Linked DNA regions of Homo sapiens: region 2 is linked to region 1. A link means that fine-mapping ties the variant in region 1 to the expression of a gene that starts in the linked region. Tissue or cell type: monocytes after interferon gamma. Region 1 holds a variant in brackets; the other region holds the start of a gene. All regions are shown on one strand. Distances are from middle to middle.

Region 1 (5,000 bases):
GTTTTTAGAGGAATATTGTTTATTATAGCAATTTAGAAAACAAAATGAGAAAAAAAATCACCAAAGATTCTACCTCCAGTTATTTTTGTGTATTTCCTTCCATTTTTCCCCCCATGTCTGTTTATATAATTGAAACTATTATTCATGCAAAGAGGTATTCTGATTTTCTCAGTTATTTTTATTTATTTTTAATTTTGTAAATAAACTTTTTTCTTCTGAGACAGTCTCGCTGTGTCACCCAGGCTGAAGTGCAGCCGTGCAATCTTGGCTCACTGTGACCTCCCAGTCTCAAGCAATCTTCCTGCCTCAGCCTCCTAAGTAGCTGGGACTGCAGATGTGTGCTACCACATCCAGCTAATTTTTAAAATCTTTTTTCTCTTTTTTGGTAGAAATGGGAGTCTCTCTATGTTGCCCAGCCTGTATTGAACTCCTGGGCTCAAGTGATCCTCCCACCTCAGTCTCCCAAAGTGCTGGGATTTCAGGCATGAGCTACCACACCCAACCTAATTTTTATTTTTATTTTATTAAAAAAAAAAGTTTTTGCCTACCCGCCTCTCACCCTCTCACTCATTTTTAAGTATAGGTTTTTCTACAATGCCACATTGTCTTTTCCATAAAAAGTACTTTCGGCCGGGTGTGGTGGCTCACACCTGTAATCCCAGCACTTTGGGAGACTGAGGCGGGTGGATCACCTGAGGTCAGGAGTTCGAGACCAGCCTGGCCAACATGGTGAAACCCCATCCCTACTAAAAATACAAAAATTAGCTGGATATGATTGTGGGCACCTGTCATCCCAGCTACTCGGGAGGCTGAGGCAGGAGAATCGCTTGAACCTGGGAGGCAGAGGTTGCAGTGAGCCGAGATTGTGCCACTGCATCCCAGCCAGGGCAACAGAGCGAGACTTCATCTCAAAAAAAAAAAAAAAAAAGTACTTTTCTTCATTTGGTTAGTATTCTCTTATGAGTTGATGCCTTGTAATTTATCTGAATGTTTTCCATTATTTTGTGGTGAGCTTTAAAACTACCCTTCCTGACTTTCAAGAATCCTAGACATGCTCCTTCTTGCTAGGTAATTATTAGTTGCACTCATTAGAATAAAGTATATGCTTGGAGTGGGGAGGAGATGAACTTTTTGAAGGGCGGTGAAGTATTTCTCACCACCAGGCCTTTGTCTTTGCTAAACTGAGGAAGGAAGATTTTATTTCATTAGCTAACAAAGAACCTCCTATATAGGCCGGGCATGGTGGCTCACGCCTGTAATCCTCACATTTTCAGAGGCCAAGGTGGGTGGATTGCCTGAGCTCAGGAGTTTGAGACCAGCTTGGGCAACATGGCAAAACCCCATCTCTACTAAAAATACTAAAAATTAGCTGGGCGTGGTGGTGAGTGCCTGTAATCCCAGTTACTCCAGAGGGTGAGGCAGAAAAATTGCTTGAACCCGGGAGGTGGAGGTTGCCATGAGCCGAGATCGTGACAGTGCACTCCAGCCTGGGCGACACAGCAAGACTCTCTCTCAATAAAATAAAATAAAATAAATACATAAATAAATCTCCTATATAACCTCATAATATCAGATTTGGAGCCTTTTCCATAGAAATGAAATTCAGAAGAAGCTGAGACTCAGATATTCCAAGCTGCCTGGTGCTCTGTGAATAGAGGAGACTTGTTCTTGTGAAATCTGAGTGCAAAGACACAGGACAAATTGTTATCTACTTTTCATTCCTAAGGATACTGTATGGCCCTAAAACACAAGAACTAGAATTCTGTGATACCACGGGTACTCCACAGTGTGTTCCTTCCCCTTTCTGAACCTGATTTGACTCATCTCTATGAAAAGATGTGGGCTTTGGGGTCAGATGTGGGTTGGAATCCTAGCGCCTGTGTGGCTGCAATTTTCTTTTGTGTAAAATTGAGATAATAGTACAAAAGTAACAACAGTTAATATTATCAAGTGCTTACTGTGTGCCTGGCACTGTGTTAAATTCTCTAAGTGTATTTTCTCATTTAATTTTTGTGATAGGCTTATGACACTATTAGTATCTTCATATTACAGTGAGGGTTCAGAGAAGTTAAGGTTCCATAACTAGTCAGCAGACCTGGGACTTCACTCCAGGCAGCTGATTCCAAAGCCTATTCTAACTTTAAACTGCTACTTTTTGGAGTGTTGTAAGAAGGACAATTTATATAAAATGTTGGCACATAGTGGGTGCTGCTGTTATATGAATGGGCACAAAATCTGTCTACATTTTGCCTTTTACCAAATTTAGAATCTATTTAGTTAAAACCTTCTTAGGGCGGGTGGGGTGCAGTTGCTCATTCCTGTAATCTCAGCACACTGGGAGGCCAAGGCAGGAGGACTGCTTGAGCCCAGGTGTTTGAGACCAGCCTGGGCACATAGTGAGACCCCCATCTCTCCAAAAAACAAACAAACAAACAAAAACAAAACAAAACTAGCTGGGCGTTGTGGTGCCCCTGTATTCCCAGCTACTCAAGAGGCTGGGGTGGGAGAATGGCTTGAGCCCAGGAGTTCAAGGTTGCAGTGAGCTATGATCACAGTACTGCACTCCAGCTTGGGCAGCCGACTGAGACCCTGTCTCGAAAAAAAAATAAAAATAAAAACTTCTTAGGACAGAGTGATTAGAAGCTGTGTAGTAGATACTTAGTAACAATGTGGGTTCCTCGGGCAGGTTATCCTACGCGGAGAGCCAGGTACCAATGGGTGCGCTGCAATCCAGACAGTAATTCTGCAAACTGCCTTGAAGAAAAAGGACCAATGTTCGAACTACTTCCAGGTGAATCCAACAAGATCCCCCGTCTGAGGACTGACCTTTTTCCGTAAGTGGACTTTTCTCTAATTAATTAATTAATTACTTATTTATTTGAGACGGAGTTTCACTTTTCTTGCCCAGGCTGGAGTGCAATGGCGCAATCTTAGCTCACTGCAACCTCCGCCTCCTGGGTTCAAGCGATTCTCCTGCTTCAGCCTCTGGAGCAGCTGGGATTTCAGGCGCCTGCCACCATGCCCAGCTA[A/ATTTTT]TTTTTTTTTTTTTTTTTGAGACGGAGTCTCAGTCTGTCGCTCAGGCTGGAGTGCAGTGGCGCAATCTCGGCTCACTGCAAGCTCCACCTCCTGGGTTCACGCCATTCTCCCGCCTCAGCCTCCCGAGTAGCTGGGACTACAGGCACCCGCCACCACGCCCGGCTAATTTTTTTGTATTTTTAGTAGAGACGGGGTTTCACCTTATTAGCCAGGATGGTCTCGATCTCCTGACCTAGTGATCCGCCCGCCTTGACCTCCCAAAATGCTGGGATTACAGGCGTGAGCCACTGCGCCTGGCCTAATTTTTTGTATTATTAGTAGAGACGGGCTTTCATCATCTTGGCCAGGCTGGTCTCAAACTCCTGACCTCAGGTGATCCACCCACCTTGGCCTCCCAAAGTGTTGGGATTACAAGCATGAGCCACTGTACCCGGCCTTTTCTCTAATTTTAAAGTGTCTGTAATTTCACAACCTCTTGGCACAGATGTGGGAGTGTTTTTCTTCAAGCTGTCCAGAGTGTTTTGCTTCGAGCTCTTGCTTTGGTAGTTTGGCTCTTACTCTGCAGTACATGGTAAAAGTGTACTGTATATACTGGCATATGACATGTGCGAGTATACATGATTCACCTATGTTTTTGAAATTTTTTTTGTGGATGGTAGAGAGGAGCATTGAGGACTTTTCATCAACAGGTATTGAAAATGATTGAACATTGTTTTATTTGTGTAAACAGAACACACTATATATAAAAATCCAATAATTAACTGAATGGATAAGCAAAATGTGGTATAAGCATACAAAGGAATATTATTGGGTCATAAAAAGAATGAAGTACTGATACATGCTACAACATAGATAAACCTTGGAAACATTATGCAGAGTGAAGGAAGGCCAGACACCAAAAGCCACATATTGTATGATTCCATTTAGATGAAATGTCCAGAATAGGCAAATCCCTAGAGGCAGAAAGTAGATTAGTGGGTTACAGGGGCTGGGGAAAGGGAGGAATAAGGAGTGACTGCTAATGGGTATGAGGGTTTTTTTTGGAGGAGGTGATTAAAATGTTCTTCTGCCAGGTGTGGTGGCTCATGCCTGTAATCCCAGCACTTTGGGAGGCCGAGGCGGGAGGATTGTTTGAGCCCAGGAGTTTGAGGCCAGCCTGGGCAACATAGTGAGACCCTATCTCTATTTCAAATACATTTTTTATATTAAAAAAATGTTCTTCAAGTAGTTGGTAATTATTTTTAAAAATGGCCAGGTGCAGAGGCTCATGCCTGTAATCCCAGCACCTTGGGAGGCTGAGGTGGGAGGATCCCTTGAGCCCAGGAGGTTTGGGACCAGCCTGGGCCATACAGCAAGACCCTGTCTCTACAAAAAATACAAAAATTAGCTAGGCATAGTGATGTGCACCTGTGGTCCCAGCTACTCGGGAGGCTGAGGTAGGAGAATCTCTTGAGCCTATGTTGAGCCTGCAGTGAACCCTATTTATGCCATTGCACTCCAGCCTAGGCAACAGAGTAAGACTCTGTCTCAAAAAAAGAAAAAAAAAATTAGGGAAAGGAAGAATAATTAGCCAAGACTTGTAAAACAAAAATCAAATCTCTTCTTTTGATCACATAAAACTTGCTTTAAACTTGCAAAAAAGACCTGATATAAATTCATAAGTAACAAAAAATTGAATTATATTAGAAACCATTAATTCAATGAATACTAAAGCTATGTAGGATGTAGCAAAATATACATATTAAGAAAAGGATTATCATAAAAGTTTTAATCTCCAGGCTCAAACCTAGAAAATCACTCTCCTCAAAGCCAGGGTTAATCATCATGCTCCAAACCAGGTACATTTCACATCACTTTGGGATCCTGGCAACTTTCTCTTTTGTTTTTTTTTTTTTTTGAGACAGGGTCTCCTCTGTCACCCAGGATGGAGTGCAGTGGTGTGATCATAGCTCACTGCAGCCTCGAACTCC
Region 2 (5,000 bases), 27 kb after region 1:
TAAGTATTGGTACATTTAAGAAAAAACTGTATATTGTGAAAAAATGTTTGGCTTTTATAATTGTAATTTTTTAAAAAAAGAATATTTACCATGATTACAGCTGCACTCGCTAAAGTTTTTAAGCAAAATCTATTCTATGTGCTCTGGGAGGTTAAAAGAAAAAAGTGTTTCTATACTTCACTGGCATGCTTTAAATTGTATTTTATTTTTAAATTAAATTAATTTATTATTTATTTTTTGAGACAGGGTCTCGCTCTGTTGCTCAGGCTGGAGTGCAGTGGTGCAATCTCTGCTCACTGCAAACTCTGCCTCCCTGGCTCAAGCTATCCTCCCACCTCAGCCTCCTGAGCAGCTGGTCCAATAGGCACATGCCACCACTCCCAGCTAATTTTTGTTCTTTTGCAAGAGACAAGGTCTCACCATGTTGCTCAGGCTGGTCTCAAACTCCTGGGCTGAAGTGATCCACCTACCTCAGCCTCCCAAAGTGTTGGGATTACAGGTGTGAGCCATTGCGCCCGGCCTAAATTGTATTTTCTTTCTTTATCCTTTTTGTGTATTTGTATTTTATTCTCTTCCCTTAACTTTGCCAGTGAACTCTGCAAACAGCTGCTCCCTGACACTCTCACAGTTATTAATGTGAATTTTTAGTCTTTGTGAATTTGAACAAATGACTATTTTTCTCTTAACTGGTTTCTGATTGATAAAAGCTCAGATTATCTTATCATCTAATACTTTCTGACCTAAACTCGGTACTTTTGTTGATGAAAGTCAATCCCTGTAAGTTAGTCACATTTTCCTCACACACCCCACCTTTTTTTTTTTTTTTTTTTTGGCAGAGGGCAAATATAGAGATGCCACAGTTCTCAGCTGGTGAAACACTGTACTGCTCACAATCTAGCTCTAACATTCTGGCTTGCTGAATAGATTGATAGGTAGGCAGACAGACAAATAACTAGCTCAACAATTCTGTTGCTTCTTGTATTTATTATGATAGCACAATTATTGATTGGGTTTTGATCAGTAGAATAAATAATTAGTACAAATTGGTTTCTAGTGTGACTTTCTTTGCCACCTCTTATTTATACCTGGCTTCGCTAGTATTTCTTTGCCTGTGTGGCATTTTCATCTATTCTCTTTGTTATGTTGATATTTAAGTCCCAGAAAAGAGTGGGTAGGAACCAGAGTAGCTCTCAAGGTGACAGGCAAATCTTCTAAGTGAAAAAAACCATTTTTCACTTTTATTAATTAAAGATTTGCATTGTTTTTGCTGCTTTCTTTTCACAGTTCAAACAGACAACAATATCAGTGTTACTATAGTTATTTATTTTTTTTGAGATGGAGTCTCGCTCTGTCACCAGGCTGGAGTGCAGTGGCGCAATCTTGGCTCACTGCAATCTCTGCCTCCTAGGTTTAAGTGATCCTCCTGCCTCAGCCTACCGAGTAGCTAGGATTACAGACGTGCACCACCATGCCCCGCTGATTTTTGTATTTTTAGTAGAGACGGGGTTTCGCCATGTTGGCCAGGCTGGTCTCAAACTTCTGACCTCAAGTGATCCGTCCGCCTCGGCCTCTCAAAGTGCTGGAATTATAGACTGTGAGCCACCATGCCTGGCCCAAATATGTGCATTTAAAGCTACAAATTTTCCTTTTACACAGTGTCACTGCATTCCACAAATTTGATATGTTGTATTATTATCTTTTATTTCAAATTATTTTATTTTTATTATTTTTTATTTTTGAGACAGAGTCTTGCTCTGTCGCCCAGGCTGGAGTGCAGTGGCTCCATCTCGGGCACTGCAACCTCCGCTTCCCGGATTCAAGAGATACTCGTGTCTGACCTCAGGTGATCCACCTGCCTTGGCCTCCCAAAGTGTTGGGATTACAAGTGTGAGCCTCCGTGCCCGGCCTCAACTTATTTTTAAATTTCCATTGATCTCTTCTTTGACCTAGAGATTTGGAATTATGTTGCTTAATTTCCAATATTTCCGGAATTTTCTGGCTTGTTTGGGTTGATTTCTAATTTTAATTCTATTGCGGTTAGAGATGATACTCTGATTTCAATCCTCTTAAATTTGAGGCTCACACTGAGGATTAAGTATAAAAAAATTTTTTTTGATACCTGTTTCATGGACTCGCCTCACAAACTTCTGTTTTAAGGTGGGGTAATTATAGTGCGTTCAGGGATGGATTTTTCTTCTGCTTTGGTTATGCATAGAGTGCACTGTGGCCCTTCAACACTATACTCTGAAATCCCACACAGTATTTTCCTCATCTGGAGGTCCTATAGGCTTACACTAGGGAGGAGGATCCAGTTCAGGCCAGCGTAGTCTTCAGCTGCGCCGTGGGACTTTCGGGGGAGCGCCTTTGCCCTCTCAGAACGGCTGGGCGGAACGGTGGGTTTGTGAGCCCTCCAGGCTCAGGGTGGGTCGCTCAGGGGCCATCTGGGGACTTTGGGAAGCAATGAAAGTTGTACCCTAGGATTTTTTTCTACTGGTCTTCTCTTCAGAGGCGAGAAAGCCAAGTTAAGAAAACCCAGACTCAGAAGGAGGTGGAGCGGGACTGCGTTCAGGCAAGGTGGCAGAACGCCTCGCCGTGGACGAAGAGAGCACATCTCTTCTTGCGAGGCCTAAGGAAGTAGGGCTCCCACTCGCCTCGGCAACCCAAGGACCCAGCCAAGGAGAGAGCCTCCAGATGAATCCTTCCTCTCCTCCTTCCTTCCCAGCCGCTCAAACTTTCACAAAGAGGAACTGGGTGCGGTAAAGAGGCCGGACACGGAACCGCTCGTCCGGTGACCGAAGAGACGGCGAGGAGGAGCCCGCGAACCCGCCTCTGTTCAGGCCCCGCCCACTCGACGTAATTTGCCCGCCCCTCTCCACCCTCCGAAGGGTGGAGCCTGAGGCCCCGCCTCCAAGCGGCCTCTCCCCGGAGTGCCTGGCGGCCAGCAGGGCGGGGCAGGAGGCTGGGAGAGGGACGGGTGCGGGGGTGGGGGAGAGGAAGGGAGCGGTCACGTGTGAGGGGCGGCCCGAGGTCACGTGACGGAGCGCCGGAGCGGAGGGAGCCGGGGCTGGGAGTTCTCCTGAGGGAAGAGGAGTGGAGTAGGGGGGACGCGGCGGCGGCGTTGACAATGGTGAGTGCGCGGCGGCCAGCGCGCTCGCCTCCCGCCCTCGTCCCGGAGCGCGCGGCGGGCCGGCCAACCGCGGGCCGGGCGTCGCCGGAGGAGGGGACGGGGGAGCAGGGCGGGGAGCGGGGTTAGGCCTGTCGGGCCACCCCTGGGTCTGGGAAAAGCTGGCGGCGCCACCTCTTCCCGGTCTCGGCGAGGCCCGAGCACCTACGGGCGGCGGCGTGCTCTCCTGGCCATGTCGGAGCCTCTGCCCGCGTTCTTCGACTGCTTGTTGGGGCTCTGGCTGGGGACTCGGACCCCGCCTCTGCGGGGGCTGGTCGCCGCCTCCCCTTCCTAGGTAGCCAGTCCCTGTTCTCCTCCCGGGCAGCCTCTCTTCCATCCAGGTGGGGCGACCCGGGAGCCCCCCACCTCCGGACTCTTCGGGGGACTTGGGCACTCAGTGTGTCACGAACTTGATAAACTCTGATATTTTAAAACCTGACTATGGTGACATTCTTTGATTTCATGACCCCAGTTCAGGCTTTCTGTTGACACTTGTAAAATGGGAGAGAAAAATAAAAGGACGTTGGAATGGGGGATATCTTTAACTCCAGAGACACCCGTTTGGTGCCCGCCGTTTTAAGCATTGGCTCTCATTTCCGTCCGCAAGCTATTTCGCTGAACTTAACGCTCTGGGTTGTTGAAACGGCCTATGAGGCAGAGGAGGGAGGGGAATCAGTGCTCTCACCACAGTCCGCGGAAGCACTAGCCTGGGCATTGTGGTATTTAGCTGGGTGTCGGCAGTCTCTAGGTTAGATCTCATTTTACCCATTTTCTGGTAGTAGTCGTCAGTTCTCTTCATTTAGCGCCTACTGTATGCTCTCCTAATACTACCTGCTCTTCCCAAAGCTCACTGATTCAATAGACTGCTTGAGACTTTTGGCTTAAAAGGCCGAGCCAGGTATATTTTTAAAAAGCTACTTTGAATAAATAACTTTTAATTTCAGTAATGATGTTGCTTTCAAAACAAAACAAAACAAAATCCAGACATTCATGTTCATTCTTAGAGCTTTTTTTCTTTCATTCAACAAATAATTGCTCAGGTGTGCCTAGGGGACCCCAGTAAAATGGAAACAGCGCCTACCTGCTCTCGTAGCTTACAATGTAGGGAGAGATAAACATTTATTTGTGTAAATTATTTGTTTAACGTGGAAATTAGAATTGTGACAGATACTAAGAAGGAAGTATTGGGGGACCTTGCCTAGTCAGTGTTAGGGCAGGCTTCTTTAATTGAATATCATTTGAAAAGAAAACTTAAAAGGTCCTCCTATTTTTTGCTTACATTTGTAATTATTACTTTTAATACGCTTTTTTGAATTATGTTCAAGAGCAGTTTATATTTTCAAGTTACCCAAACAGAAACTAAATTGTAAAACTTTAAAACACTGAAATGGTCACAGATGTAATATATGTATGAAAATTTGCTGTTTCATTGCTTGTGTATGGGCTAAGTGAATGAATTTTGAGAGTCAGCCTTCCACCTCAGAAATGCAATGAGTTGCATTTCTTTACATCCACTGGACTTAGTGAAATTCCTTCAGTGGGGACTAAAAAGTTGCCTTTTTATGTATCTACCATGTATTTTTGCTAATTGGTAATGCTCAATATTGGGTTCAGAAATTATATGAAAAATCCTAAATTAACCTAAAGTCAGTGATAGGAGGTTTAGGCCAAGATTAGAAAACTATAAAAACAATTGCTAGCATGTTTTTATAGTCATATATATTGCAGTCCAGTTATTTAAAAGCTCAAGAGTTTTAACTTGCATATTAATAGTTAATCCTGAAAATCGCAATATTCCAAATGCGCCCTTGAAGATATCTTTACCAAAAGAAGTGAG

Alleles and levels. Alleles are on the strand shown, and positions count from the first base shown. SD is a standard deviation of normalised expression in the study named.
In carriers of allele ATTTTT in region 1, the expression in monocytes after interferon gamma of the gene that starts at base 3,025 in region 2 tends to be lower than with A alone (large effect, 0.89 SD a copy in Fairfax 2014).

What was found. PIP is the estimated chance that this variant, and not a neighbour inherited with it, causes the effect.
Region 2: VPS26A starts here. The variant in region 1 is fine-mapped to the expression of VPS26A in monocytes after interferon gamma (Fairfax 2014, PIP 0.95).

Annotation. Positions count from the first base shown.
Region 1 is chr10:69,094,398-69,099,397 of GRCh38, forward strand. SRGN (serglycin) reads left to right here. Exons shown (of 3, transcript NM_002727.4): 2 at 2,687-2,834. Among named protein-coding and RNA genes, the nearest start is that of SRGN, 8.8 kb to the left of the region's middle. The variant A/ATTTTT (reference allele first, on the strand shown) is at 3,030.
Region 2 is chr10:69,121,154-69,126,153 of GRCh38, forward strand. VPS26A (VPS26 retromer complex component A) reads left to right here and starts at 3,025. Exons shown (of 9, transcript NM_004896.5): 1 at 3,025-3,127. The coding sequence starts at 3,125. RefSeq lists enhancers at 2,259-2,618, 3,483-3,989 and a silencer at 2,879-3,278.